Homo sapiens: one gene and its partners. The protein of the gene in region 4 interacts with the protein of the main gene of each other region in a pairwise test. Each region holds a gene or a part of one and is shown on either strand. Other genes may lie near its edges.

What was found.
Region 1: the proteins of SVIL (region 4) and MYBPC3 interact in a two-hybrid assay, tested with the Homo sapiens proteins (one study listed by IntAct).
Region 2: the proteins of SVIL (region 4) and PCNX3 interact in a two-hybrid assay, tested with the Homo sapiens proteins (one study listed by BioGRID).
Region 3: the proteins of SVIL (region 4) and MRTFB interact in a two-hybrid assay, tested with the Homo sapiens proteins (one study listed by BioGRID).
Region 5: the proteins of SVIL (region 4) and TMEM132D interact in a two-hybrid assay, tested with the Homo sapiens proteins (one large-scale study listed by BioGRID).
Region 6: the proteins of SVIL (region 4) and LUC7L2 interact in a two-hybrid assay, tested with the Homo sapiens proteins (one large-scale study listed by BioGRID and IntAct).
Region 7: the proteins of SVIL (region 4) and PPARG interact in a two-hybrid assay, tested with the Homo sapiens proteins (one study listed by BioGRID).

The regions. Positions count from the first base shown.
Region 1 is NC_000011.10:47,335,703-47,339,520, forward strand, and holds part of MYBPC3 (myosin-binding protein C, cardiac-type), read right to left. Parts: intron 3,703-3,818; coding exon 3,622-3,702; intron 2,978-3,621; coding exon 2,818-2,977; intron 2,093-2,817; coding exon 1,988-2,092; intron 1,878-1,987; coding exon 1,689-1,877; intron 310-1,688; coding exon 175-309; intron 1-174. UniProt on the Homo sapiens protein: Thick filament-associated protein located in the crossbridge region of vertebrate striated muscle a bands. In vitro it binds MHC, F-actin and native thin filaments, and modifies the activity of actin-activated myosin ATPase.
Region 2 is NC_000011.10:65,631,656-65,635,660, forward strand, and holds part of PCNX3 (pecanex-like protein 3), read left to right. Parts: intron 1-2,423; coding exon of another isoform or gene 2,424-2,470; coding exon 2,471-2,701; intron 2,702-2,882; coding exon 2,883-2,986; intron 2,987-3,317; coding exon 3,318-3,465; intron 3,466-3,562; coding exon 3,563-3,793; intron 3,794-3,873; coding exon 3,874-4,005.
Region 3 is NC_000016.10:14,262,656-14,268,033, reverse strand, and holds the end of MRTFB (myocardin-related transcription factor B), read right to left. Parts: 3' UTR 1,261-5,378; downstream 1-1,260. UniProt on the Homo sapiens protein: Acts as a transcriptional coactivator of serum response factor (SRF). Required for skeletal myogenic differentiation.
Region 4 is NC_000010.11:29,624,410-29,629,332, forward strand, and holds part of SVIL (supervillin), read right to left. Parts: intron 1-4,923.
Region 5 is NC_000012.12:129,697,479-129,702,401, forward strand, and holds part of TMEM132D (transmembrane protein 132D precursor), read right to left. Parts: intron 3,221-4,923; coding exon 2,332-3,220; intron 1-2,331. UniProt on the Homo sapiens protein: Regulate neuronals morphology via inhibition of the WAVE regulatory complex (WCR), a complex that controls F-actin cytoskeletal dynamics.
Region 6 is NC_000007.14:139,418,552-139,421,889, reverse strand, and holds part of LUC7L2 (putative RNA-binding protein Luc7-like 2), read right to left. Parts: intron 1-3,338. UniProt on the Homo sapiens protein: May bind to RNA via its Arg/Ser-rich domain.
Region 7 is NC_000003.12:12,374,647-12,379,569, reverse strand, and holds part of PPARG (peroxisome proliferator-activated receptor gamma), read right to left. Parts: intron 1-4,923. UniProt on the Homo sapiens protein: Nuclear receptor that binds peroxisome proliferators such as hypolipidemic drugs and fatty acids.

The DNA of each region.
Region 1 (3,818 bases), on a different chromosome or scaffold from region 4:
TGTTTTTCACTAGGCAAGCTTTTTTACTTCTGAAAACAGGACAGATATTTCTCTGGGTGTCCTCAACTTTCGGCAAAAGTGGGCCTAAAAAACTTGACTACAGGTGAATCTGCTCAATGGCAAGGTGAGCATGTTCTTCCTTTGGGGAGGGGGGTTGGGGGCGGGGACACTCACAGCCCTCTGGGCAGTACTCCACGCTGTAGCCATCCAGGCCTCCTGCTCCCACGCGCTCTGGGGGCCGCCACTTGAGGGAGACCGTGGTGTCAGAGACGTCCTCTACTGCCAGGTGGGTGGGTTCGCTGGGGGGACCTGGGCAGAGGAGAGGTCAGAGAGGGGTCTGAGCAAGCCTGGGGAAGCTGGAGATCCATGCCCTAGACTCTGAACTGCCCACTGGTCACATAGGGGGCACTTCCTGTTCAGCTGGCTTTTGGCCACTTTAAGGAATATTTTGTCCCTGTTACAAGACATGTCTGTAGATTGGCTTAAAAACAAACAGCAACAGCAGCCAGGCACGGTGGCTCACGCCTGTAATCCCAGCACTTTGGGAGGCCGAGGTGGGAGGATCACCTGAGGTCAGGAGTTCAAGACCAGCCTGGCCAACATGGTGAAACTCCGTCTCTACAAAAATACAAAAATTAGCTGGGCATGGTGGTGGATGCCTGTAATCCCAGCTACTCAGAAGGCTGAGGTGGGAGAATTGCTTGAACCTGGGAGGTGAAGGTTACAGTGACCCCAGATCGCGCCAGGACTGCACTCCAGTCTGGGTGACAGAGCGAGACTCCATCTCAAAAAAAAAAAAAAAAAAAAAAAACTAAAACTAAAACTACAGAAAACATGGGAATTTCCTGGCACGTATGATTAGGTGAGTTGACTAAGAACTGAACAAACCAGGAATCAGTCCCTAAAACGAGAGGCCTGGACCCTTCTCCCCACAGGCCCCGATTCCTGCCATCTTCCCAAGCTGTGCCCCATCCCTGGGCCCAGGGGTCCTTGGCCTGCCCTTGCCACAGGCAGCTGCCCCCGGACTCACCCACCCTAGTGGGAACAGGTGTCCTCCTGAGCCCTGCCACAGTCTCAACACCTGTTCTGCCCACTCAGACCCCATTATACAGATGAGGAAGCTGAGGCTTCAGGGAGGGATGACTCCAGTTGGCCCCCCGGGGACCATGGAGCTGCCTCTGCCATCTCTGAGTCTTGGTCCAGGACTCTTTCCACAGACAGATGCCCCTGAGACCCCTCCACTAACTACAGCCCTTGCCCCATCCCATAGGTGAAAACCCTGGGTTGAAGGGTGTGGAGAACAGGGGACAATGAACATTTATTGAGCACCTGTTAGATGCCAGATGGCCTGCCTGGTCATCCCATATCATCCTAACAGCTCTCTGAGATAGGCAGTGTCATTATTCCCATTTTGTAGACATGGAAAGAGAGGCTTGAAACGTGAACTAGGGGTCGGCGTAGTGTGAGAGTCAGCTCCACCCCAACCAGCTGGGAGATCTCAAGCAGGTCATTTAACTGCTTGGAGCCTGTTTCCTCATCTGTAAAATGCGGCTGAGTATCCCCAGTCGAGGATGAAAGGAGACTGTGGATGTGAGTGTCTAGCATGGCTGCCTGCAGAGCACCTGCTATTATTGGAGGTTTTTAACTGGGGAGGGGGCGGGGGGCAGGACCAGGCCAGGCAGGCTCACCGATAGGCATGAAGGGCTGGGAGGCAGGGCTGGGCCTGGACATGCCGATGGCGTTGACCGCGTAGACGCGCATCTCGTACACCACGCCCTCGATCATGCGCCGCGCTTCATGACTCAGCTCCTGAATCAGGTCGAAGTTCAGCCGCATCCACCGGTAGCTCTTCTTCTTCTTGCGCTCCAGGATGTAGCCTGGCTCAGGGGAGGTGGCAGCTCTGGTCTGGAACCCAGGCATCCCCACACCACCTTCCCTCGGATCTGTTTGGCGCCCTCACACCTCCATCCGGTGCCCTTGCACTCACCCAGGATGGGCTGCCCGCCATCGTAGGCAGGCGGCTCCCACTGTACTGTGCAGGAGTCCTCTCCCACGTTGCTGATCTTGGGGGCCGCAGGTGCGTCTGGCACGTCTGGATGGGGTGGGATGGACCCACATCAGCCCTGCCCCGCTCAGGGCCTTGAGTAACGTTGCTCGTCCCCTTCCCACTCCAACTAACCGCCACAGGCTGCCCCCACCACCCCCAGATCCAAAGAGATCTTTCTAGAATGCATTTCTTTCTTCTTTTCCTTTTTTTTTTTTTTTTTTTAGTGATATGGAGTCTCACTGTGTTGTCCAGGCTGGGTCTCAACAGGATGCATTTCTGATCATGTCGCCAGCCCTCCGTCAACCCTTTAAGGCTTCTCACTGCCCATATTCACCCCTGTCCTGGCTCTGATCCTCCCAACCCCACCCAGTCCTCTCCTGACATGTTTCATTCATTCTCCACACCCAAAAGGCCCTTTCCCTCCTCCACCCCTTTGTACACAGTTTCCTCTGCCTGGGATGCCTTTCCTCACCATCTTCTCAGCCTCCTAAAGGCATCACCCCCAGGCACAGGGATGGCTCTCTGCTCAGTGCTCCCACGGCACTCTGGACATGGCTCATGTACAGCAGTGTCGCAGGAAATCTGCTGGATGCATCTGCCTCCATCTCCCCCAGAGCGGGGCTCCTTTTGGGCAGAAAAACCTGTCCTGTTGCCGCTCGGCTCAGGGAGCATGCCCGTGATGTTTGTCGAGTGGCTGAATGAGCGAACGGATGGGCCCTCCTTGGGGCTGCCCCTCTGTGTTCTCCAGCTTGGACCCCGGCCGGCCTCACCGATGACCTTGACTGTGAGGTTGACCTGGTCCTCGCCCACAGGGTTCTTCACTGTGACCGTGTAGACGCCCTCATCTTCCTTCTCTGCCCCCTCGACCGTGAAGATGCTGCGGTCCTTGGTGGTCTCCACGCGGACCCGGCCCTCGGTCTCACACAGCAGCTGGGGGGGTGCAGAGTTGGGGTGAGATCCAAGTCAGACCCCAGAGGCCCTTGCAGCCTCCGCCAACAGCCAGATGTCCCGGGGGTCCATGGGGGGAACACAGCCTGTGGGAAGACTGCATCCACGTCAGCATCTAGTTCAAAATCATCTCTGTGGCACCGACTGAGGGCAGGGGCTCGGGTTCTAGCTTTGTCACGGGACCTGGGGCAACCACCTGTCCTCTCAGATGAGCTATCATGAGGACCCCTCAAGACCCCAGCCTTCAGAAGAACCAACAGTGCCAGGCAGGAGCAAGACCCCGGCAGCTACACTGGCAGAAAAGTGTCTCAGAAACTACTCCTGAGTTGAGAGGGAGCACAAGGTCAAGGTCAAGGTCAGCTTAGGATGAAGGGAGCCAGGGAGCAGCCCAGTCATGAGGGCTTCCTGGCAATGAGAGGGTGTCCACATCCTTGTGATGGCCATCAGCACACTTCACAGAGACCCTCTGCCTGAGGTGTGAGGGCCCCACAGGGACCCTGCTGGGGGCAGCAACACACCCGGCCAAGTGTGGCACCTCCATGGAGACCTCGCCAAGGGCTCGGCACCACGTAGGTAGAAAGTGATGAAAGACAAACGAGCCTCCTCCTGACCTCAGTCTCACTCACCTTCTTGTCAAACACCCACTCATCGCTGTCACCTGTGTCCTCTGGGGCATCTGGGGCTGGCCTGGCTGGGGCCTTATTCCCCTGGGAACAGGGCAGGAGGGAAGTAGGGAGCAGAGGAGCTGACTCAGCCTGGAAGCGCCCCTCTGCTGCTTCTTCCACCCCCTGACCCACACTGCCCACCTTGCCTGCCCCCTGAC
Region 2 (4,005 bases), on a different chromosome or scaffold from region 4:
CAAAAAAAAAAAAGGAATTTTGAGGCTTGTGGTGCTCAGAATAAGCGTACTGGGAGTGGGGTGGCCTGCTGATCACAGTGCAGGCTCCCACGTGCCTTCTTAGGATCTACCCTGGTGCTCCCTATGTTGGGCTCGGTGGGTGGCCTACTGGGGCCCAGGTGAGCCTGCCACCTAGGTTCTCTCTGGAGTAGTTTCACGAGGCCCTGGCTGTCCTTCTCCAAAGGAAATCCTGTCCACACCACATATCAGAGGAGCTGTCATTTGTCATTCCTTCTGCCCTCCCAGCCACTCCTAGGCAAGGATTTGTGAGACCACCCCCCTTTCATCAAGAAGGAGGCTGTGTCTAGAGAGGGACATTCCCAGTCCCAGGTCACCGAGAGGTCATGGCCTGGTCCACCTTCCGGTCCCATCTTGAGAGAGGTGCCCTTGCCCAGGTTGCCCTGCTGTGCCTGCTAGGCTAGGGCCAGCAGGTTGAGATGCACCTGGCCAGGTCTCTTGTCCCATGGGGAAGCTGACTGGCCACATCTAAGGCTGCCTCAAAGGCTGGGCAGAATTTGAGTCTGGAGGAAGTGCTTGGAGGACCTGGGGTGGCTCCGCTGAGGATGTGGACTGAGGGTGAAGCTTGGAAGGACAAGTCAGGGCTGCCAGGGGTGGGGCGGGGGGAGGCGGGTGTGCTGGGGAGCCTGGTGCATCTGGGGAAGTGTCCCAGCTGCAGGGATAGGTCCTTTCCAGCCTTCGAGGTTGGCCAGTCGAGGCGGAGCCCCTCCCGTTAGCTTTGCCCTTCCCGTGGGAGTTACTGGGCTCTCAGACCTGCTTCTGCAGCTGGGAAGGGCTACAAGAGCAGGAAAAGGCACCGTGGCTTGAGGCTGCACGGAGTCTGGGCAGTGCTTCCCGGGAAGTACCTTGGGCAGAGCCCAGCTCGCAGTGAGCGCTCACAGGCGGAGCGGCTGCTGGTATTGCCCCCCGTCTTCATTTTCTTCCTAAGATGACCGTGAGTGTTGTGTCAGAGAAAAGGATGGCACTGGTGAAGGTTAACCAAGCACCTGATATGTGCCAGGCCAGCTCCTCTCCCGGTCCCTGAAGCTTTTCTTTTTTTTATTTTTTTTTGAAACAAGGTCTCATTCTGTCACCCAGGCTGGAGTGCAGTGGTGCCATCTGGGTTCACTGCAGTGTCCACCTCCCAGGTTCAAGTAATCCTCCTACCTCAGCCTCCCAGGTAGCTGGGACTACAGGCATGCACCACCATGCCTGGCTAATTTTTGTATTTTTTGTAGAGATGGGGTTTCGCCATGTTGTCCAGGCTGGTCTTGAACTCCTGGGTTCAAGCGATCCTCCCACCTCCACCTCCCGAAGTTCTGGGATTACAGGTGTGAGCCACCCTGTCTGGCTGAAGCTTTTCTTTTCTGGGTCTTTTTAGCAGCTCTGGTGGTGCCTGGATTGTAGAGGCGAGCTATGGGCAAGAAAGTCAGTCTGGAGCGGGTCTGCCCTGGCAAAGGGCCTGCCCCATTAGCTCCATCTTAGGGTGGCACATGGAATCCCCATCACCTCACTGGCTGCCCTGCCGGCCTTAACCCGCCCGTGCATCCTGGCCATGCCAGCTACCTGTCTTCCAAAGCTCCTGTACTTTTGCCCAACAGGGCCTTTTAACAAGAGGTCCAGGAGCCCCCAGCTTTGGGTACCACATGTGCCCGTGGCTTTTTTCTGAGGCGAGGCCTGATGGCTGTCATGCTTCAGCTGCCTAAAGGGACCTGTGACCCAGGCACTCTGAGGCAGGCCCACTACTTCAGCCTGCCCTTCCGGCCCCGAGATCTGGATCCCACAATGTCATGATGGGGAAGGTCCGGGGTTCAGGCGGCAGTTCAGTCTGTTCTGCCCCACTCGCTCCCCGCCCCCTGCCCATGTGACATCTGGATGCTCCCGCGCTCGGGGTTATGTTTGTGCAGGAACACCAGCTCCTGCTGCTACCTGGCCCACGTGCTGCACAGGCACTGAAGGTTCACCTGAGGGCCACACCATAGTGTCGGGGCCAGCCAGAGGCGGGTGGGGGACAGGGTTCAGGGCAGGTGGGGCCAGCTCCACCTTGATGACTTGGAAGCTGAGGTGGTAAATGTTGAGTGTGATGATCTTGTTCTCGTTGGGGGCTGCCATTTGTTTGAGCCTCAATTTCTCATACAAACGGGGCATATTCTAGGGCAGAGGCAGGCAGATGCTGCTTGTGAGTGCTAGCCCCAGCACAGGACTTCCTGCTCTGTAAGTGGGTGCTTCCTGGCGGCTTTGTCACTCCTCCCTGGTCTAGGGGAAGGAGCCAACTTGCTTGGTTGCTCTTGAGAGCTGAGATGGCTCTAGGAGCGGGGCATCCCAGAAAGCGGACTTCAGCTCAGTCTTGGGGAGGAGCCTCTGAACCTCCATGCTTTCTCCTCCAGTGGCCAGGGCCGGGACCCCGGCCTGACGCCTGCCCCTCCTCTCCCAGAGCATCATCTACTACGTGAGCCGCTCACCAAAGCTGGAGGTGTGGCTCAGCCATGAGGGCATCACGGCAGCCCTGAGGCCTGTGCGGGTGCCCGGCTATGCCGACTCGGATCCCACCTTCTCGCTGAGTGTGGATGAGGACTATGACCTCCGCCTGTCTGGCCTCTCGCTGCCCTCCTTTTGTGCTGTGCACCTCGAGTGGATCCAGTACTGCGCCTCCCGGCGCAGCCAGGTCAGGCTCCACTACCTGAGGCTGCCACCTGGGGCTGTGGGACCTGGGCTTCCCTGCTCCCCTTCTCCCCATTTGGTTTCCTCTCACTCTGAGCCTCCCTTAGCCTGAGCCCCAGCCCCCACTCCAAGGTCCCTGTCCCAGGTCTGAGCTGGGCTCTGGGATGGGGGTCCTTATGCCACAGCCCGTGGACCAGGATTGGAACTCCCCGCTGGTCACGCTGTGTTTTGGCCTGTGTGTGCTGGGCCGCCGGGCCCTGGGGACAGCCTCTCACAGCATGTCTGCAAGGTGAGTGCTCGGGTGTCCCGCGGGGCCTACTGCCGTCCCCACCCCACCTCTTCCACGAAGAGCACTGTGGTCTCTGGCCACAGTGGCCACAGAAACTGCAGTGGCCCTTCCTGTTGGGGTACCTCTTCTCCCACGGGCAGGGCACTTCCTGGTCATGACCTTGCCTGCTCCTCAGTGCTCTGTGAGAGACATGGGCAGAGATTGGCCTCTTTGTCAAGATGGGGAAACTGAGGCTCAGCGTGAGGAAAGGCCTCTGCTTGGATCACTCTGAAGCCTTACCCCTGGGTCCTCGACACCCCTCTCTCCCCTCCCTGTTTTTCCTCCCACTTAGCCTGGAGCCCTTCCTCTACGGCCTGCACGCCCTGTTCAAGGGGGATTTTCGCATCACCTCCCCACGTGACGAGTGGGTCTTTGCCGACATGGACCTGCTTCACCGCGTTGTGGCGCCTGGGGTTCGCATGGCCCTCAAGCTTCACCAGGTTGGGGAGGGGTGTGCCCAGCAGCATGGGCAGGTGGGGGATGAAGCCTCTCTCCAGGGCAGGGGCCACTGACCCCTGTTCCCGTCTTCTCTACCAGGACCACTTCACGTCCCCAGATGAATATGAGGAGCCAGCAGCCCTATACGATGCCATTGCGGCCAACGAGGAGCGGCTGGTCATCTCACATGAGGGTGACCCAGCATGGCGCAGCGCCATCCTCAGCAACACGCCCTCCCTGCTGGCGCTGCGCCATGTCCTGGATGATGCCTCCGACGAGTACAAGATCATCATGCTCAACCGGCGCCACCTCAGCTTCCGAGTCATCAAGGTTGGGCCGGCCCCACCTGCCCTAAGCCCTGCCCCAAACCCCCTTGGGCCGGCCCCCTGACCCTGGCGTGTGGCTCTCAGGTGAACCGGGAGTGCGTGCGCGGCCTGTGGGCCGGGCAGCAGCAGGAGCTGGTGTTCCTGCGCAACCGCAACCCCGAGCGTGGCAGCATCCAGAACGCCAAGCAGGCGCTTCGCAACATGATCAACTCCTCC
Region 3 (5,378 bases), on a different chromosome or scaffold from region 4:
GGATCACCTGAGGTCAGGAGTTCGAGACCAGCCTGGCTAACATGGTGAAACCCCAAAGCTACTAAAAAAATATAAAAATTGGCCAGGCATGGTGGCACGTGCCTGTAGTCCCAGCTACTTGGGAGGCTGAGGCTGAGGCAGGAGAATCACTTGAACCCAGGCAGCAGAGGGTTGCAGTGAGCCGAGATTGTGCCACCACACTCCAGCCTCGGTGACTGAGTGAGACTCTGTCTCAAAAAACAACAAAACTAATAAATAAAAAAAAATCTGTTGCAGGAAAAAACAATTTCTCCAATTAATTCTGACCTTGCCCAAGGGGCTGTCTGCCATGACAGCTTCCCCAGAGTTTCCTGTGACATCCCTTGCTCACTCCTCTTGGGCTCCCAGGGCACGTGCAATGCTTCCTTTGGCAAAGTTTTCTCTCAGACCAGCAGGGAGGTCTATTTTCTCCCCAAGGGCAGGATCTCTGCCTGGAACATATGATACTTTATGAATGGTTTAACCCTTTGCGCATCATCTCACTGGTCTGTTGAGGCTGCACTCTGGTTCCCTAAGTGTAATGAACATTTTGCTGTGTTTTGGTAATCAATATCTTTCTTTTCCCCTTTTCTGTGGTTGATACTCGGGCCTTTTTTCTTAATCAAATATTGATATATGGTATAGTTATTAGAGTTTACTCATTACTATTTTGTTTCTTCAAAGCAAAGAGAAAAAAAATTTTAACCAAACTCTGTTTTAAATGTTGGCTTCTGAGTTGAAATGAAATGCCATCTTACTAAAAGCATACTGAATTCTAAAGACCATTTTGTACAGTCTATAAAAATACCTCATATAAATAGTTGCTTTTGAAACTTGGCTAGATTGAAGGATTATGTGGGTCTTTCAGGAATTGTGGTGGTGGTGCATTGATGTTATTGAGTCAGTTTTCATTGTGCGTGTGTGCGCGCCGAGTGTGAAAATCAACCCCCTAGGGAGAACTACATATTTCTAACTTTCATTGTGGAAGAAAGAAACTCACTTTGTGTAAATCTTGACATATTCAAGTTCAGCTCGTACCTGTGAGTTTCTATTTTGTATCTCATGGTCTTGGATCCAGGGGAGGGTGACAAGTTCACAGGCTTGGCCTGCTGGCTTTCTGTTGTGAGTTGTATGCTAAAGGTATAGTGTCTCCTCCTAATAAATCCACTCCCGTTCCACAGTCTACAATGGCTCCACCAACCCATAGGGAGTGGTCTTTCCTCTGCACAGCAAGAATCATAGTACATCAAAATGTCTTTTATTTGAGACACAAAAATGCAAAATTGCTGAGATATCAAACATTTCCCGATCAGCTACAATACTGCCACTATGTACAAAAGATCTGATGATAAATGTGCACACATATAAAAATACAGTATGCATTACTTATGTACAGTACATGTGCAAAATGTATGGCATTCAAACATGATATGGAATTGATTTCAGGGGTGCAAACAGCAAATACAAAGGCATCATGGTTTTTCTTTTAAAAAACAACATAAAGGCAATAGATGAATGGACCCCCGATTGCCATAATTTTTTGTTGATTAAACTAGTGCTTCAACAAGCAGGGCTCTGTAGATTGGTATCTTTCTCCTTTTTTTCATAAAGTGAGATGCTAAGACATAATGTGACAATGAAAATAAGAAGAGAAACACCTATCACATTGCATTTCTATTGCAAGCAAGAAAAGAAAACTAATTTCTACATAGAAAAAAAACTTTGTATTACTACTGAATGTTACTCTTAAACCAACAAAACAACTCTATACTATTTTACATGAAAACAATAAGAGAAATATCTACATCTTAGTGAAAATTATAACCTTAAATGGATAATACCTTTTTGGGGCTGATTTTTGAGATCTCATTAGTCTCAAATTTTAAATAAAAAGTGCCTCCTTTTGGCAAATACTTGGCAATGCCTTTGGTTCCTTTAAAGCAAGTTTGCATTACTATTGGTTACTTGAGGTCAAGTACTTTTGGTAGATACTAAACCCTTTCCTAAATGCTTCCTCTTCCTACCAAATTAGCAAGATTCCTTACAGCATCACGTAGAGAGGTAATTGTTACGAGTTTCAGTATTCTATAAACTTTGTTAAAGCTTTGTCTTAGTAGTTGGCATAAAGCTCTGTTAAACACTATAGATGTGATGATATCTCTGATAACATATTTTATTTGATTCCCGACAGCACCTTGTAGATCCGAGATTGCCATCTTATTGTCACAAAGCTGTGACACCACAGAGCAAAGTGTTTGCATGGAGGGTAAGAGCTCTTCTGTAAACATGTGCAGCTTTTCGAATTGTAGGCCTTCCATGAAAGATTTCAGGTAGAAACCCTTTGTAATGATGTGTTTCCCTGGATACTGCAAGAAAGGGCGAATGTGGAAAAAACACGCACCTGCTCATTGCCATGCAGACAGAGTCACTTTACAAATAAAAATGTAGCTCAGAGAGACTGCTGAATGAGCAAGTTATTGAAGGTTTGAACCAGGAAAAAAAAATTACTACATCTTAGTTGTTTTCCAGTTTTGACTGAAATCACTTAAAAGATGAGTTGAAATGCAGTTAGGATGCTCTCCAGATACACACTGATGCATTTGTAAGCTATGTTCCTTGAAAAACCTGACCTTCCAGTTAATGTTCTTTGATAATTTTGGGCTAATTCTGTGGCCTCTAGGGCGGTGGGACGATTTGTATGGGTATTCTCTTGTCAGTATTCAATATTCATGTTTACAGTAGCAGATATTGAAAAATGGAGGGTTATTTGTGAATTTGGTTAAATTGACACATGTTGCTCTGCTAGTAGACACTGAATAGCTATTCTCTTTACATTTCTCTAAAAAGTCCCCAGCGGCACCATGAGCTCCCCACCTGAGTGACAGCCAGGACTTCTGTGAGGCTACCGTCAGGTGGGTGCATGGAAGCCAGTGAGGATGTATACTGAAATGTGGGCTTCTCACAAATATTTTAAACCCTGCCAAAGTGCTTTACCACGTCTCTAAGGCCAAGTCCATTTGAGGACAGTAAAGGGACTATCTCATCACTTGTGGGGATAGCTGTTTTGTCAACTGCTATGGCTGATTTCAGCCTGGGAATTCTGAAAGGACTGTGAAGAAAGCTATGCTGCCTGGAATGATCTGGGGTTGAGGGTCCAGGAAGCCTGAGTCAGCTCTGGTGACAAAATAGGTAGTGCGCCCCTGAGCCATCACTCAGGGTATGCTGACTGCACAGTTCAGAGGTGCTATCTCATTACTATGACTTTGCCTTCCATAGGCAGCAGCTTGCAGGCAGCACCACCCTGCCTTTGCCACTGTTTCTAAACAGCACTGAAAGCCAAAAAGTGTCAGTTACATGGATCACAGAACCATGCGGCTTTTAAAAAGGAAATTTAAATAAGATCTCTTTTAGAATTACAAAAATATTCATATGAAACAAACACAATAGTATCTAAGCAAGAAATTCCACAAATTCAGAATACATCTATGTACAATTATGTGGCAATACTATACAGTAGATTGCACATTTCAGGAAAAACACTAGAACGTGAACCACTAACACTGTCCTATGAGGTTTCCTAGTGGATGCTTTGCTGAAATGTACAAGATGACCACCTACTCCTAGACTTTCAAAGACTTTACAGAAATTTTGGTATAACTTTTAAATTCATCCCACCCCCAGTAGGATGATCTGACTATCTACATACAGCAGAAAGGTAAGGCTGGTACTACTGTGTTTTGAGAACATGTAGGAAAGTAAGATGGGGATGTGAGATAATGCCTTTCTAGGAGTTATTTTCTTGGCAGTATGATACTTTACAATATGATATACAACAGTACCACTGCTTAAACCACACACGTGCATAATGAAAATTCAACTGGCGACTTTGACTTGTGCTGTAATGGCTGTGACACTAACCTAAACAACAACAACAACCAGTCTTTAGTCAATATCCACCCTTCCTCATTGCACTCACCATCACACGCACTGAGTCCGGTCAGAAGGGCCTTGTTTACAGAGTATCATCTTTGGTCATGTCACATGAGTGTGAGCACATAGCGCGTCCTCACTCCAACCTGGAACATGTAGTGGAGATCCTGGAGAGCAGCACTCGTGTCACAGGTGCCTGGCTGGTGACCCAAGCCAGGAGAGAGGAGGGTCAAGCGGAATGGTGCAAGTGGAGTGGCTTGCAGAGTTAATGGGTAGAGATGCCTTGTCTTTTTAAAAGTGAAATACTGGTTTATAAAGGTTTAAACACATATGTGAAGTGGGCACTTTAGCAATTCATAGGAGAGTAGGCCAATGAGATAGCATTTTCTTGCACTGCACTGTGTATTTTTGGAGAGCAACCTTCCTGTGGCATGTTTCAAACCCTATTTTAAAAAGCAATAAAGGGACCCGAGAGCTAGAAAACTATCTACACAATTCAGGATTATGGAAATATAAAGTTATTCAACGAGAGTCAATGGTACTAGTGTTCGGTTACCTTCTACAGTCCCACTGATATTTGGTGCTAATTTAATAAGCCATTCAAATCTGAATGAAGAAGATGCTCAGGGTCTAAGTATGGACCTGATAGGCCCAGACAGAAACCCTCAGCAAAAAAACTGTGGCCAAGAACTGTAAGAAAAATACTTTCCCAAGTAAATAGCCTGGCCCTGGAGACAGGCCCCTCTCAATGGAACTGACTCGAGGATTCACAGAACATCTAGTGTGGTAAACTCTTGTAGGGCTTGGTCAAATGACGGTGTTCTGGTTAACAGAGAGTTATTGTATCCCGTGTGTTGGTTTACCAATTTCTGAACACTTAAACTATTCATCACAGACTACACTGAGCACAGTGGCCTCTGCCTTGAACCGTCTGGAAGGCACATGAGCACTGTTAGTGCCTTTGAGTCAGGAAGTGCCAGTGAGCAGAGGGCTCCAGTGTGCTCATGCTGGAAAAGCAGACTTTTGTTACACGTAGTAAAATTTATAAACCACACACACACAAATCAGAAATAAGATCAGCTCTTAGGCAAAACACAAACCCAGAAATAATTCACAAATTCTTTCCAAATAACGGGTCAGGCTGCCTCCGGCATGTCAGTATGGAACATTTACCATTTTGTGACCCAGGGGAACCAACCTGACCTGAGGGTTTACACAAGGGTGAGGTGGAGAGCACAATATTATTATTTAAGAAAAATCTCCATGCTCTTTTGGTAGATTTCAGTTTTTTGTTATTTACATTTTGTCATATACCTCAATGACTAGCTTGAAATAATCCTGTGATAGTTGGCATTTTAGAAAATTCTTAAGAAATGACTTAACACATATGTAATAACTGTTTTCTATATAAAAACACTAATAAAGCCTCC
Region 4 (4,923 bases):
CACCTGTAATCCCAGCTACTCAGGAGGCTGAGGCAGAAGAATCACCTGAATGTGGGAGGCAGAGGTTGCAGTGAGCTGAGATCGATCATGTCAGCCTGGGCGACAGAGTGAGACTTCGTCTCAAAAACAAAACAAAACAAAAAACGCCTGCTCAACAAAATCATTTACAGTGCTCATTTGAAACACAACTTCCCAGCAATAACAATTTGACTTCACCTGCCTTAGGTTACTGTTTTTTAAAAGTAAAAACAAAGTCTCATTAAAAAAAAAAATGAGCTCATTAATGGTAGAAATTATCATCAATGCTCATGTTAGCCAGGGAGATGCTGCATGCATAAAAGTTAGCTTAGAAAACTCTCTCCTTTAAAATACCACGGTAATTTGTTCTCCACATATCTTAGGGCATCCATTTACCATCTGATTATTATTTTCATGTGGAGAGCTACTGAATAAATTGTAATTTACTTTTAATGAAATAATTATCTTGTGAAGGACAAATGTTGAAATGTTTAAGGCCCCATGAACCAAGCAATCTCTTTCAACTTGGGCAAAATTAAACGTAAAAATAGTACTAACATAAAGGTAGGCAGAAGGCAGATCTAGCTTATATACAATCAGCTTCACCCAGTGATAGAAGTGACCAGGTGAATCGTCTTAAAAAGAAAAAAAAAACACACAGAAAGATTACAGACTCCAAAGTTTCAGTTGTAAGTTACATTCTCTGACATGATTAGTGACACACAATAGTTCATCCAATGTTACTAAACTCCTTCTAAAATCATCTCAAAGTCTTCAGTTAAGACTACCTTTCTTTTTAACTTTTGCTAAGTTTAATAAAGTTCTGAGACAAAGTCTGAAAGTAAGAAAGAAGTAAAGTGGATCCAATGATTTATTTCTGTAACATCCTGCTTGATATCAACATCAACCTTTGCCTTGGTAATGAAATCAACGTTTTATAGACCGAATGTTATGATAGCAGAGAAAGCATGAATTTTAAAAATAGAGAGAGATGGGTACTTGACTTGTACTTGCCTCAAGTATACATATATATATATTTTTTTTCCTTTTTTTTGAGACGGAGTCTCACTCTGTTGCCCAGGCTGGAGTGCAGCGGCGCGATCTCTGCTCACTGCAAGCTCTGCCTCCTGGGTTCACGCCATTCTCCTGCCTCAGCCTCCCGAGTAGCTGGGACTACAGGTGCCCACCACCATGCCCGATAATTTTTTGTATTTTTAGTAGAGACGAGGTTTCACCATGTTATCCAGGATGGTCTCGATCTCCTGATCTCGTGATCCACCCGCCTTGGCCTCCCAAAGTGCTGGGACTACAGGCATGAGCCACCACGCCCAGCCTCAAACATATATTTTGAAATGCGTATAAGCTTTATCAGTATGAATTCTAGGGGAAGAGAGAATTTCAGAAGATACAAAATGCAAACTGTAGGAGGATACAAAGCCTTACAAGTGTCTCCTTTGGTTAGGAACCATGCCGGGTTTTTTGGGGTCTTTTTTCAGCTTTGAGGTATAATTCACAAATGCAAATTGTATATACTCAAGGTGTGCAGCATGATGTTTTGATATAAAAGCTGAACTCACAGAAACAAAATGGAAAGGTGGTAACCAGGGGCTGGAGGTAGGAGAAATTGGAAAGACATTGGTCAAAGGATGCAAACTTGTAGTTACGAGTAAGTTCTGGAAACCTAAGGTATAGCATGGTGACTATAGTTGCTAACAATGTATTATATATTTAAAATTTGCCAAGAAGTAGATCTTAAGTTTTCTCAAGGCACACACACACGGTTATGGCCCCTACATCAGACACACATAACTATGTGAAACCATGGTAGGTATTTTACATTTTGTTATTAACCTAAGCACTTGAACAACAGATGTAGGGCTGAAGATCAAGAGAATCGCTCAGGGTACTTTAGTACCATTCCATTGGAACTTAAACGCTACGAGGGCAGGAATTTTGTTTCCCACCGCTCTTTCCCCAACACCTATACCAGTCCCTGACACACAGTAAGTGCTCAGAAAACAACTGTTGAGAATAAATGAATACCTGGCAGTGAACTAATAAACTCAAAGGGAAACGAAAGCCAAGCACATCCCATCTTGTTGTGAACACGAAGATTCTGACGGTCTCAGGCATCCCTGAGCGAGTCTGCTGTGACCACTTTGGGGTTTCACATCAGGAGAAAAAACAAATGTCCAAAAGAAGATAAAAATAAATTAGGTTAGAGAAAAGAAAATAGACATACTTAAATGAACACAAAAGAAACTATGAGAGCTTAATTTAAAGAGGTGTCAGAAACTTTCCAAAATAAAGAATCAGGCTGGGCGCGGTGGCTCAGGCCTGTAATCCTAGCACGTTGGGAAGCGGAGGCGGGTGGATCACGAGGTCAGGAGATCAAGACCATCCTGGCTAATACGGTGAAACCCCGTCTCTACTAAAAATACAAAAAGTTAGCTGGGCGTGGTGGCGGGCGCCTGTAGTTCCAGCTAGTCAGGAGGCTGAGGCAGGAGAATGGTGTGAACCCGGGAGGCGGAGCTTGCAGTGAGCCGAGATTGCGCCACTGAGCTCCAGCCTGGGAGACTGAGCGAGACTCCATCTCAAAAAAATAAAATGAAAATAAAATAAAATAAAATAAAATAAATAATAAGAATCAAAGACAAAGAATGATTATGAAGCCATCAGAGAAGGGAGAAACAGTCTGTGTATTTCAACAGAAACAAGCAAGGACAGTGAGAGGACTTTTTAAAAAAGATCTTCTTTCTCAACACATTTCTAATTTGTTCCTGCTCTCCCACCTTGAACTACTACCTTCCAGATACAAGGTGTTGCCTTTCCAAGGAAGACAGATTATTCTCGATCTCTGAAACCTTTGGATTACAGAATCCCAATACGTAAAAGGGGTCTTAAAAATCCTCTAGTCCAACCCTTGTTTGAATGAATGAGGCCACTGAGGCTCAGAGAGGTTAAGAATTTACCCAAGGTCACACAGCTGGTTATTCATGAAAATCAATGTTCCTCCTTCTTTCTCTGGCCATTGACACCTTCAATTTCCAGATAAAATCTTCCTCCTGCACCGAGAGCAGGGAAAACACTTCTTTGGACTTTTGGGGAGGTAGGTGAATGAATGAAGGAAACAAAGCATGTTGGCTGTTATGGCCCCTACATCACTTTGCTCTGCTGTGTTCTCCACGCCACGTGCCCACTGCAACTTCCTTTTGAAATATTTAAGAATAGTTGGCTGCCTGAAAGCTCTCTGATGCCTCTGGAGTGAAGACCTGATACAAATCCAAATTAATAAATTCCATCTCAAATGGGAGAATCCTGTGTTGGGTAAAGTACATCCCATGAAGCTGAGTCACCCTATTCTGAAGCACAATGACCAATTTTATCTAATCACAGAATTTTAAAATATTCAGCACTTCCAATAAAAAATGTATGAAATCATAAATCCAAATGGTTATGTGTGTGTGGCTAAAATGAACATCCGGGGGAAATTAAGACTATCAGCACAATTTAGAGAGCTAGCTGCTTCTTAACGGTACAGCCAAGCCTTTTTTTCTAACCTGGCTCAAACCTATAGAGTTATTAGCTGGTTTAGATGTCTGATGCAATATTTGCAAACAAATTGAATTAATTGCAAAATAAACAAATGTAGCTGAATTTTGCAACCAACATAGCACACAGTAAACTAAACTATCAGCTTAACTCAAACAAAAAATTCCTAAGAAAATTTATATCCAAAACCACTAAAACATTCAGATGTCATTTTCACTTTCATAACCTACCTCTTAATTCAACATATTTTAAGCTACTGAAAATCAAGTGCTTTCCCATTTGGGTTTTGGCTGGAGCGGTTTGTTTGTTTTGGAGTAACAGGTGTGCAACTGCAACATGTATATGTCTTAAATTTTTGGCTGAGATAAATTAGATATAATGTTTCAGAATGTATGAAAGAGTATTTACTTAAAATTTTGAAATATTTAAAGTATGTGAGATCTTAAAAACCTAAAAATATCAATATGGTTTTTCTATTCAATGACTGTATCTATCCATCCAAGCCTAAGTTATTTGCCAACTTTCCATGCTCAGAACGTAATTGAAAGTCCAGAAAGAAACGAGAGGCCTCTGATGAACCTAAACACAGTTCACAAATCGTAGGTGCATTATTAATAAAAAGCCCTTTGGGTCTTCGCCCAGAACCGAATTGTTCTTTTCTATTGATAGCAGATACAGAGGATACAAATTCTCACACAGCTAATTGGGAGTTAATTTCTACTTACAAACAGAAAATCAGTTCTAAAAGCCAAATGAATGCATTCCACCTGAAATGGACATGTTGAACAATTCACCTTATAAAGAGGAACACCAGGATTTTTTAAAAAATCTTAAATGGACCTTAAGAAGGAAAGCTGAGCAAGCAAAGAGACAGAAAATGATTTTTAAAATAAGGCCGCCAGGAGACCTCAAGATCACAGCAGGGTGTGGATGCTGAGTATGGAGGTCAGAGCCCCATCACCCTCACTAGACCTGAGATGGGATTCTCACGGAGAGGGGTTCCATCCCAGGGAGGCTGCGGGGACATCAAAGTAACCAGGAGGTCTTGAAAGGTGTCCAAGAGGAGAAGACAGAAGAGCTCCTGATCAGTGCTGAGGAGTGAGTGGGCAGGAAAGAAAGAAGTGATCGCTTGAGGTCAAGGGGAGCTTTATTTAGAATGGATGAAACCTGAGGATGTTTTCAACACAAGGAGAAGCCAGGAGAAGAGCAGAGTGGAAAATAAGACAAACGGGAGAGAATGGTGTAGGTAGAGAGCGGGAAGGGGTGGCATGAAAAGCCTAGAGGAACAGAGGAGCCTTGAAAGACTCCTTCTCCTCCTCGGAAGCCCCCTTCGAGTCCCGCACCCCAGCTGGT
Region 5 (4,923 bases), on a different chromosome or scaffold from region 4:
GCAAGCACATTATTAATGCAACCTCTTAAAGAAACAGTGTAGCATCGTACCGAGGTAAACAGACATTCATGAAACATTTCCTTCATTGTTGTCTCATCTGTAAAACTGATTTTTCAAATTGAATTGACATTTCTAATTGATGGGCTCTGAACAAATATACTTTTGCTGTACTTCTCAAATTTTCCAAACTTTGACCTGTGAGTGGAGCCACCAAATTTAGAAGCTTCAAATGCATTTGCTTGTGAATTTGCCAAGACTTGGAGCCTCATATTGTGCAGCCACACATAGTGAATTTCTCTTGGTTTTGTTACAGACTGCCAAAGATAAAAGCCACCCTTGGACCCTAATGGATATGTTTAGTGTGTCATAAAGTCATGAGACACAAAGCTTTTTGTGAAATTCAGTGCTACACACATCACTGCTTACACACACACACACACACACACAAGCTGCATGTGGCTCTCATCTCCTGAGAGTCAAAGCTTCAGGGGATTGCAGTGTTTAATCCTGCGTTCAGAAAATCAAGTCAGTCGTTGGCGGACCTAAAAAATGGCAGACGGTATGAAACGGTGTAAGATCAAAGCTCCCCTATTCAAACTTTTTGTTTCCACCACCAAAATATTTCTCTACGTAAGCAGCCATCCTCACAAAGAATACTATGTAAGACTGTTGAACCCAGAAAAGTAAAACACAAAGCTAGCAGACCTCATTGAGGACCTGTGGCCAGCTGGATCTAGATCCGATTTCCAGAAGGACGGAAGGGAACGCTAATGAAGGCTTGGCCAGCGCAGATGTGTTCCTGTACCCTAAATCCCTGCGGCTATTCCGCGAATGGCACGTCCAGCCAGGCCAAAGGTTTTTACCTTCCAGGACTTAGCCAAGTTCAGTCATTAGATGCATGTCCATTAGGTTCTGTTTCTTTAGTTAAAATAGGCATTTCTAATACTAGGTCACAATCAAATAAACTTAAATGTGCAAGGTAGAATCAAAACGGTGATTTATTTTCTTAAACTCATCCACCCTTTAAACATAAAGGAAAAAAGGGGAGGGGAGAGGGGAAGGGAGGGGAGGGGAGGGGAGAAGGGAGGGGAGAAGGGAGGGGAGAGGGGAGGGGGGAGGGGAGGGAGGGGAGGGGAGACGGCATGGAGGGGAGGGGAGAGGGGAGGGGAGGGGGAGGGGGAGGGGAGGGGAGGGGGAGGAGATGGGGAGGGGAGGGGGAGGAGAAAGGGGAGGAAAGGGGAGGGGAGAGGGGAGAAGGGAGGGGAGGGGGAAGAGGAGAGGGGAGGGAGAAAGAGAGAGGGAGAAAGAGAGGGAGAAAGAAAAGAATAGAAAAAAGAAAAGAAGAAAAGAAAAGCTAGAAAAAGCAGCCATAAATCCCATATGAAGGGGGATAGAGAGCTGGTCATCATTGGATGAAGTTTATAAGCCCACATATGAAACATGTCTTACATACAGTTACACTCCTCATTTCAGGAGTCATAACACACATTTTATTACATTGCACATCAGGTCAAATTGTTGAGTTATGTAGCAGTGCTAGGACATTTTTAATAACCCAAAAACACTTCTACTAAACAGCTGTTGTAATCAAACTTGCCTGTGTTGAAAATAAAACTAAAACTATATAATGAAAATACAAACAAGCCTAGGCAAGTAGCTTCTCTCATACGTTATATTCCACAGTGAAAACCAGCCTATATTTATTCTAAAGTACACAGAGCTTATTTTCAATGTCTTCTCTTTGGTATATTCTTATATAAGAAACTCAACAAATTCTACTGTATATTCTTCACACGTTATGCTCATTTATTTTTTTGAACACTAAGTTCTATTTCCAGGGAGAAACAAAATGGTAACTTTGAGGTTGGTACCATATTATACTTAGAACTTACATATCTGGAATAGATTTTGAGTTGGCAAAACCGTGTTCCCTGTCCTTTCTGACAACTGTTGCCATTTCATTTGCAGTCTCATTTCAGCTGTGAGGCATTTAACTCTCCCAATTTTGAAAAGCCTTCTTGGATAATTTTAGCATTCCCAAAACTTGCTGATAATACCCTAAGCTAAGGGAAAAGGCGTACCATCAGCAGCCCCCCGGCTGCCCTATCAATGGCTTGGAAAATCTATTAAGACGAATATTCTCACAACCCAATTGCCAACCCGGAACGATCAGACTGGTCTCTGTATTCCACGGTGCAGATGGAGTTTGTAAGAACGGGAAGGCCGGCTCTACTTCGGTGAGCGATAACACAGCTTTTCTGGTCAAACAGCTTCTGGAAAACACCACCTGATCGACGGGCGGGTACAGACAGACATTGGGAAACGACTTACCTCAACGTGAAGCGATCTTCAGTGGAATTTCTGGAGATGGAAACAGGAAAAGTCAGCACGTCTCCTTTCCTCACGGTCTTTGGTATATAGTGGATGGCCACGCTGTTGTCCAGACGCAGTTCTCTCAGGGAGGGTTTCCTGTGTGTCTGATAAAGGAAGATGCTCCCGATCCTCTGCAAGGGGGGCCCGGACTCATCGATGTCACTGTGGCCTGTCCGGATCCCATTGCTTCTCCTCGCGTCTTCCCTGACGCAGTCCCCTCTCTCACCCCCTGGGTGCACGGTGTAGTAGAGCTCCACGGGGGTCCCCTCCGGCTGGTCCACGGACTTCCTCCTCCCGGCAACCACCGTGGGGGGGCTGAACCAGCTGGACAGGAGCTCCAGCTCGGCCACGCACAGCCCCAGGTCCCCCTGCAGCCGGCAGCTGCCCCGCACCTCTCGGGTCTCTCGGAAAGCAAAGACCCTCAGGCACGGCAGCTTCTCCCCGGCGCTGCGGTCGTCCCAGTCTCTGCCCATGATGTGGAACAGAACCTGCACTTTGGGCCGGCTCAGGTAGACTTTGTCCCGCAGGATGTGGGCTTTTAGTTTCCAGTTAAGAGAAAATTTGTTGGTGAATCCAAATGGGTTGGAAGGTAGCATTAAATCCTGGGGCACCACTTGCTCGATGGAGAAAGGCCCGTAGCTGGCATTGAGGACAGGCAGCCTCCTGGATTTGTAAATCAGAAATGACTCCACCCGGGACTGCAGGCTGGAGTTCCTCATGATATCCTGGTTGGCCTCCTTCAGGAAGAAGGAGACGTCCGCGTTGTTGATGTGGTAGGTCACGGGGAGGTAGGTGGGCAGCAAGGAAAACCTCTGGATGCTCTCAAGGATCCCTCGACCTTCCGTCACTGTGGGGAGGGAATCGCAGTGCAGGCGTTAGTAATGCTAAGGTCCTGTTACCAGCATTTCAGACATCTGCGTGCCCCCTTCATAACAGAGGACCCTGTCTTCGCGCCAATTATGCAATTCCTTATCCAAACCTCTTAATCCAATCTACTCGCTTCATATTATTTGTTTCAGAAGAAATAAATGCCACCAACCTAAGTAGAAAACCAGTATCATTTAACCTATAAAAAAGTTGAGCATGCAAATAAATACAATTCAAATACAGTTTTAAAATTTCCACTCGTGATAATGGTGTTTTTATGGGGTTATGGTAAAGACTTGCTCTTTTTTTGATCAAAGGAGAGATTAGCAAGTGTTAGAAAGCTGTCACAGACAAGCTACCATCGACAGAGAGGCACCGTCCCATTGACTCAACACAGACTGAGATTGGAAACAGGAATGACTTCCTCAACACATGGATTGATGCCACGTCCACATTCCACCTGATACATATTCCTTTGTGTTCCACTCATATGCACGTTCTGCATATACGCACATGTCCAATGGGAAATGCTAACAGACTTGGGGCAAAAATAGACGCAGATGCACAATCATAAATCACATGGACAGTGGACACCCGCCCCCAGTTGGAGTTAAGGGGAGAGATGCAGAGAAAATACCTTGGAAGGATATATTGGGAGGGGCCCTCTAGAAATAGATGAGATGAGGTGACCACGACACCAATGTGTCAGGGCCGGGCGTACAAAGCAATGCTCCAAGTCATCTATGAAACACTGGACCCTGAACCTAAGAAGCACGGGAAGGGCAGCACCTCGCTTCCATGCCAGCCACATCCTGTGGACACTACGCCGTCACCAACGAACAAAATCCATTGTTCATTTTTCCGCACTGAACGTATCTCTCCCTCAGGGGGAGAAAAATCCAAAATGTTATTTTCACAAGTTGCCTTACATTCTGTAAGAAAAATGCAGGCAGAGCAATTGCATAATCCAAAGAACCAATTTAAGGAGTTTTAGAAATGTAAACTATTGGCTGGGAACACTGACTTTCTAGGCAAAGCTCCACAAGTTATGCTGAAGCCCTTCTCGTCAGTCACCATGTAATTATCTTTGATTACTCGGACACTCATGGCTCCACCTTTCTCAAAGGCCCACGCAAACACACATCTGGAAGCCTGATGCCTTCCCGAGTCAGGACCCTTCTTGGCAGTCATCCGCCAGCAGCTGAGAGAGCCAAGAGCTCGGAGGCAGGGGTCCTGCTCCCGGCTTTGTGAGACGATGAGCAGGTCACTGACCCTCGTTGTTTCCCATGGACCCATTGGTAGCATGAGGGGGCTGACTGCAGCACTGTAGCCTCAGCCCAGCTGTGATAACACAGGGTGTCAGGCTGCATCCAGTTTAACTTCTAGACAAGAAGTTCAACGCATGTATTCAACCCGAGTTTACAGAAAGCCCTGGATGAAAAAATCTCTCCAATCATCGGCATGACCAAACTCAGAGCAGGCTGAGCTTCCATATAAACAACTAAGGCTTGTCTTGGACTGAACCATTTGAGACTGCTTATAAGTGAGCAGTCTGCATCCACCCAAATGACAATTTCCTAGGGTTCAACGTCATAAATATGGATTGTTTTCAAAAATCAAAATATCATAGATATAAAAAGGGACTCCATGCCTTAAAAAGATTACATGTTTTAACTTTATAGA
Region 6 (3,338 bases), on a different chromosome or scaffold from region 4:
CCAATTCATAAAAGGTATTTTAATATAAAAAATAATACATAGATAACAGCTTTAAAAAGTGAAAGAAATGTATTATCTAAATTTTAAATGGCTTAGAATAGGGGCCAGATGGTGACTATCTGGGGTACTGCAGGTCCATGCAATCTTTGTGGCAGTTCTTTTCTTTTTAGAATGTAAAAACCATCCATAGCTTGCTGGTTGTACAGGCTACCGGCCAGATTTGGCCTATCGGCAACAGTTTGCCAACACCTGACTTAGATAAGAGAACTACTCAATTATTAATATGAATTTAAATAACCACTTCTAAAAATCTACTCATACTGAGTTAGCTTATTCAACCAACAAGGGGAAATAAAAAAAGACAAAGATGCTCACACTAATAAATCTTGATTAGCCATAACTGTTTACTACCTTCTCCATTCCCATACCCAACTTCATTATAAGAAAGGTAAATAATAAATCAATCGGAAAACCAAACATATTATGGAATCAGAATAAACATGGAATCTTCCATACTTCCAACATCTAAAATTCAACAAATTACATTTATTTGGTTCTTTACAGGTGACACAGCACTTTTACATAATTATCTCACTCAACCCATATTCAAAATTAGGATCTGAGGCACTACCAAGAACCTGAATAAGTAATACTTTCAGGAAAATAAAAAATATGACTGTTCAGTTTTAGAAATATAGTTAAGGAGGGTTAAACAAAAAATGGTTCTAAAATAATGTCCACTTTGAACATTCTACTTAATGTTTTAATAAACTTAAAATGATATAAAAAGACTGGGCACGGTGACTCACGCCTGTAATCCCAGCACTTTGGGAGGCCAAGGCAGGCAGATCACTTGAGGTCAGGAGTTCAAGACCAGCCTAGCCAACATAGTGAAACCCCCGTCTCTACTTAAAATACAAAAAATTAGCTGAGAGTGGTGGCGTGTGCCTGTAGTCCCAGCTACTCGGGAGGCTGAGGCAGGAGAATCACTTGAACCTGGGAGGCGGAGGCTGCAGTGAGCCCAGATCGCATTACTGCACTCCAGCCTGGGTGACAGAGCAAGACTCCATCTCAACAACAACAAAAAATCACAGTGCCAAGTCTAGTGATTCCACGTCTACACTAGTCCTATCCATAGCCTTTGTTGGAATAAAATATGAAAAGAGATGGTAAAAATGATACCTAAAAAGACACTAGATGCCAAACAGTCCCAGTGATCAGTAATAACTAAAAAACTATGAGTATCAACTACTATGTCCCACACATAGTGGTTTCCATATACTATTTTACTCAAACTACCAATAATCTTAACAAAGCAGGTATTCTTACTTTCTCCACTTAGTAGATGGGGAAAGACAGGTGAGATAGTTATAAATTACTTAGCCAAGGTGGGACGTGGTGGCTCATGCCTGTAATCCCAGCATTTTGGGAGGCCAAGGCAGGTGGATCACCTGAGGTCGGGAGTTTGAGACCAGCCCGGCCAACATGGCGTAACCCTGTCCCTACTAAAAATACAAAAATAGCCAGGTGTGGTGGCCTGGGCCTGTAATCCCAGCTACTTGGGAGGCCGAGGCAAAAGAATCGCTTGAACCCGCAAGGCAGAGGTTGCAACGAGCCGAGATCGCGCCACTGCCCTCCAGCCTGGGTGACAGAACGAGACTCTCGTCTCAAAAAAAAAAATAAATTACTTAGCCTAAACCAATGAACCCAAGTAATCTGACTTTGGAGTCTGCACTAAACATGTTTGAACAGAGCAAAAAGATAGATAGATGCAAATGGTCCTCATTTACGCAGGGCACTATTGCCAGGAAGAGGTCACAAAGAATCTACTTGTATCAGAGACAAGTATTTCACAGTAGGGAAAGGAGAACAGCAAAACATAAAAGGCTTTCAATAAGAACTTTTACCTTGAAAAATTAAACCCAAATATGTAGCAATAACTTGATGTTGTATGAAATACCAAGTAGGTTTTAACAGCAATTATCTGGTAATTTTTAGTATAAAACAAAGAATGATGCTTTAAAAGAGAATAATTTGAATTCAAAGATGAGAAAGTGCTCGAGAAAAGCAAAACTTTTAATAGTTTTACAAAAATAATCCTCTTTATGAACATGCTGACATCTTAGATATGATCATGTATCATGTATGGTGGAAAAATTCCTATACAACTTCATCAACGCAGGAAGCATCAGGGACTAAAATAACACAATCTCAGATTAGGGGACTTCACGCCCATCCTTCCCATACCCATCACCAATAAAGACATTTAGGAGTTCAGCAACAACAATGACAGTTGGGCAGATTTGACACAGGAAAATGTCTAAACCTTCCATCACCTAGCAGGATAATTCTGAAAATTCATTGTGCAGATAAGACAGGTAACTTTTAAAAAATGCTTATTTCTGAACACTGCACTGAGGGTAGACCCCCAAAATCAGTTTCAAGAGTGTGAGATAAGAGGCCTACAAATCACTCTGTCCTTTACAAACTCCCTCCTCATTCTCTGCATTTGCCTAGGATATTCACTCTATATGGAATATCTTTTTCCTAGCTGATTCTACCTGTTCAAATTTTACCGACTACCTGAAGCCATTTTTGATTACTCTGTTATTTGCCTCATCTAAACTCTCGGATCATTTATTCTATGATATGCAGTTTAGCACTTTATAACATGTGGTAGTCTTATGCCAGTCTAATTATTGTCAAAGATGTCAATCCTTTGTTCTAACTCACATAGGAGACTTTTTGTTTTTTTTTTTGTTTGTTTTTTTTTGTTTTGAGAGCTGGAGTCTCGCTCTGTCACCCAGGCTGGAGTGCAGTGGTGCGATCTTGGCTCACTGCAACCTCCACCTTTGTGTTCAAGCAATTCTCCTTCCTCAGCCTCCTGAGTAGCTGGGATTACAGGCATGTGCCACCATGCCCGGCTAATGTTTGTATTTTAGTAGAGATGGGGTTGGTTGGCCAGGCTGGTCTTGAACTCCTGATCTCAAGTGATACGCCCATCTCGGTCTCCCAAAGTGCTGGGATTATAAGCGTGAGCCATGGCACCCAGCCTCACATAGGAAACTTCTTAGAGCAACTTAAAGTTGTTCAACTATGTTATACGTCTTTCTTATGTTTTACTAAGTCTAGTACAGTAAAACATATACAATTAATTATTATTAAAATCACCTTAAGAAATACTAAAAACAAGGCCAGAATATAAGAAATAAAATATTGAGAGCCTATTAACAAACTCAGCTTGTGAGTGATTTCAGGGAATGGAAAGTTGAGTCAAAAAAAAATAGGAAAGATTTTAACAGCTTTCTGTGGATTTTATTATAGATTTTATGTGGAGT
Region 7 (4,923 bases), on a different chromosome or scaffold from region 4:
CATAACCACCTTCTTAGTGCTGTCTAGGCTGTTTTATGATAGAAAGGAAGTCACCCTTTACCCAGGTATCATAATAGAGGATCCTGAAACAGTGCAGATACATACAGTGTATCCATATAAATGCCTTTTTGCCAACAGGCCTGCTCTCATTAACTTCTACATTAGGTCATCAATTGAGTCTGTTAATGACTGCTGTTATTTATTTAAAATTTTGTCCAGCTTTATTGAGTATAATAGACAAAAATTTTTAAACTTAAGGTATACAGGCCAGGCACAGTGGCTCACACCTGTAATCCCAGCACTTTGGGAGGCGGAGGCAGGAGGATCACCTGAGGTCAGGAGTTCGAGACCAGCCTGGCCAACATGGTGAAACCTCATCTCTACTAAAAATACAAAAATTGGCCGGGTGTGGTAGCACGCCTGTAATCCCAGCTACTTGGGAGACTGAGACAGGAGAATCACTTGAACCTGGGAGGCAGAGGTAGCAGTAAGGTGAGATCACACCACTGCACTCCAGCCTGGGTGACAGAGCAAGACTCCACCTCAAAAAAAACCTAAACCAAAACAAAACAAAAAAACCCAAAAAACCAAAAAACAAACAAAACACTTAAGGTATTCAATGTGATGTTTTAATATACGTATTTACTATGAAATGATTATCATAATCAAGGTAATGAACATATTCATCACTTCACAGTTACCTTTTTGAGTATGAATATGTGTAGTGAGAACACTTAACATCTACTGTCTTAGCAAATTTCAAATATACCATACAGTATCACTAACTATAGTCACCATGCTGAAGGTGACCTATACTTAGCAGATGATCACCTTAGAAGGTGACCAGAGCTTATCCTGCATAACTGAAACTCTGGCTGATATCTCCCCATTGCTCTCACCCTCCAGCTCCTGGCAACCACCATTTTACTCACTGCTTTTATGAGTTCGACTTTTTTAGATTCCACGTGGATCATGTGGTATTTGTCTTTCTGTGTCAAATACCACCCAGTTTAATTCTCTTAGCATAACGTCCTCTAGGTTCATCTCTGTTGTCGCAAATGACAGGATTTCCTTCTCTTTTTAAGGCTGAATAATATTCTATTGGGTGTGTACATATACATCTGTATGTGTATATATGTATGTGTGTATATATATACAGATATATACTGTGTTTTCAAAAATCCATTCATCCATTGACACTTAGGTTGATTTCATATCTTGGCTATTGCGAATAATGCTGCAGTGAACATGGGAGAGCAGATAGCTCTTCAACATACTGATTCCATTTCCCTTGGATATATACCCAGAAGTAGGATTGCTAGATCATATGCTAGTTCTATTTTTAATTTTTTGAGGCAGTCCATTCTGTTTTCCATAATGACTATACCAATTTACATTCCTGCCAACAGTGTACAAGGGTTCCCTCTTATCCACATCCTTGCCAACACTTCTTATCTTCTGTGTTTTTGATAACAGCCATTCTAATGGGTGTGAGATGATATCTCACCGTGGTTTTGATTTGCATTTCCCTGATGATTAGTGATGGTGAGTACCTTTTCATATATCTGTTGGCCACTTGTATGTCTTCTTTCTAGAAATGGATATTCCTTTATCATTTTTTAACTGGGTTATTTGTTTTCTTGCAATTGAGTTTGTTGAGTTTCTTACATATTTTGGAATATTAATTCCATATCAGATGTACGATTTGCAATCCATAACTTCATATCAGATGTACAGATTCCCCTATTCTGTAGGCTGGCTTTTCACTTTATTGATTATTTCCTTTGTGGTGAAGAAGTTTCTAGTTTGATGCAATCTGTTAATGATTGTTTTTAAAGTGTGCACAGGGTTCCAGGACAATTTTACTCTCTTGAAATTAGAAGCCCAAAATATTTTTCTCTTTAGGATGAAATTTTTGCTATTCTACTTGTATTTATAATGCTTTTGTGTAATAGAAAAGTTGGCAAATTAAATTTAGGTAAATGAACTTCTTCTTTAATTGCATCCTAAAATAATTTTGTTCTTAAAATAATACAAAAATAAAAAAATTTTAAAGGGAAAAATCACTCAATTATTACTTCTGTACTATGAAAAATTACTCAATAATCTTTTCTGTGGATACACCTTTTCTTAAAGCGGAGAAAGTTTTCCCCACATTGAGAATAGAAAGGTTAGAGAGATATGTGGAAACATTTGATCACACCCGAGAGTGTCAAAATCAGACTCTAGCCCAGCATTAATTTTAAACCATCCCCAAAACAAAAACAAAACAAAACAGAGATAGAAACAAGAAAACACATAAAAGACAAAGGAAAAATGCTTACATGGATTCTAAGGCCACAGAATAGCAAGTTTCATGAATCATTTGCCCAATATCATGTATGCCACATGCATTTTTCTAAACATGATTTATTGTCACAGTAAGTGCAACAAAACTCTTTTGGTTCACTTCATGTGAACTTGTGAGCCACCGAGGGTGCAGACTGGAAAACTTTCTGCAATAGGTACCTGGACTCTGTTTACCTGACACCAGTTCATTATTCAAAGTGGTGCCAAAAAAGCAGTCATAGGTATTTTAAATGTTAACTCTGTGGTCAAAAACACCAGTGGAGAGCTGTGTAAATTTAGGACTGCTCACACGGGAGACAGAGATGAGCTGCTCATAAACTCCAGGATTCATCAAATCATAGGCGTATCTTTCTTGTTTGCAGTCATATCCCCACTGGCTAACAAAGGGCTTGTCTCATAGTAGGTGCTCGTTAAATATTTATTTATTAAATACTAAATACATTGATGACTTAATGAGATAGCTGTGAAGTTTCAGCAGAAGGGGCAGGGAAGGAGGGAAGCAAATTGGTATTGATCAAGCACTTCCCATGTGCCCGGTACATCCTACCTTTTCTTCTGCATAATCTGAAATATTATTCCCACTTTATAGATAAGCAAGCTAGGACCAAAGAAGTAAAGTGAATTGTTCAAGGTCCTCTAGCTAGGAAGTAGAAGATGCAAACTCAAGACTGACCCTGAAACTCTCTTCTGTATATACATACTCTCTTGATTCTCTCATTGATGAAACAGGCTTATGGAGGAGGGGCCACTCTCCTCTGTGTATCTGTGCATGGGCCTCTTGCTTTTCCTTTTTCTTTTCTTTTATTTATTTATCATTTTTTTGGAGCAATTTTATTTTAATGCTCTCACTTTAACACCACTTGCTTTTTCTTACCAAGCAGATTGCCAAGAAATTCACTCCAAAGGCAAACTTTTGCATGAGTTGAAGATTGAAGATTTCGGCTGTCATCTTCATAAGAAAAAATGCCCTGAGGCCGGGTGCGGTGGCTCACACCTGTAATTCCAGCACTTTGGGAGGCCAAAGAGGGTGGATCACCTGAGGTCAGGAGTTCGAGACCAGCCTGATCAACATGGAGAAACCCCATCTCTGCTAAAAATACAAAATTAGCTGGTCATGGTGGTGCATGCCTGTGATCCCAGCTACTCGGGAAGCTGAGGCAGGAGAATCACTTGAACCCAGGAGAGAGAGGTTGCGGTGAGCTGAGATCACGCCACTGCACTCCAGCCTGGGCAACAAGAGTGAAACTCCAACTCAAAAGAAAAAAAAAAAAAGCCTTGAAAATATAAACAAGACTGGTCCTGTGAATGCGCGTTTGTGGTTTCAAGAGGACTAATTAGGTACCGTATGGGTTCACATGTCTATCTACATAAATAAGTACCCAAACAACCTTAAGTTATCTGTGTTTCAGTGTCAACACTGCACACCAAAAAGGGGAATGTGTACTGGTGATAGTTAAAGGTCATTCTAGGTCTCAATGACATCCAGAAAAAAGTCTGTGCTCCTAAGGACAGGGCACCCATCCAACTGTGTCCTTTGTTTCAAAATTCGTCCAAACCTGTCTAACCCAGGTCATTCCATTTACTTTGTCTGTCTCCTTGGCAGGCTTAATTTTCATTTCTGTATCTACTTTTCTTAGTATAACTTATTTTCATATTAAAGTATATTTCCCTTGTCTACACTGTAATATCCACAAAGGTGGGTTTATCACCTATTTCTCACTATGCTATTGCAAAGTTTTCTGCATACAGAATAAAGGCTGACAAAGTGAGTTAAAGGTAGTGGATATGCTTTTGTATGAATACTGGGAAATGAAAATAAGGATGCACAAATATCTGGGGTGGGAGAGAAATTGGTTGCTCATGATTTTACTGGTTTAATTTTGCTTTGTTTCATTTTTAACATACAATTTCAGTGACTTCCTATCAATCACAGCCATGCTGCTTTCTTTCCTCTCTCTCTCTCTCTCTCTCTCTCCCACCTCCCCAACCTCACTTTTAAAGAGACAGCATCTCACTGTGTTGCCCAGGCTGGTCTCAAACTCCTGCGTTCAAGTGGTCCTCCTGGCTCAGCCTCCCAAACTTCCGGGAATATAGGCGTGAGCCACTGTGCCCAGCCAAAGTCATGCTTCTTATTACAAAAGTCATATCCCTAGGGGTCGTGTATTACATTGTGGAAATTTTGGGAAAATTTTTAATGTGAAAATAGCCATCTATGTGTTAAGGAAAGAAGGAAAAGTTCATGTAATTTTTAAAAATATTATATGAAATTCCTAGAAAACTCTGTACTTGTAGTACATCTCATGGCTAAAAGGATGCTGTTTTCTGTTTTCGTTTTGTTTTGCTTTTCATAGTAGCCTTTACTTTTGTGAGAGCAGTTTTAGGGTTACATAAAAATTGAGCAGAAAGTACAGAGCTCTTAAAATAGCCCTTCCCCAGCCTCCTGTCCCCTCTCTACAAAGCATGGTTTTCCCCTATTACTAACACCTTGCACAGTGTAGTATACCTGCTATAACTGATGAACCAATATTGACACATTATTACCACCTAAAGTCCATGATTTACATCAAGGTTTGC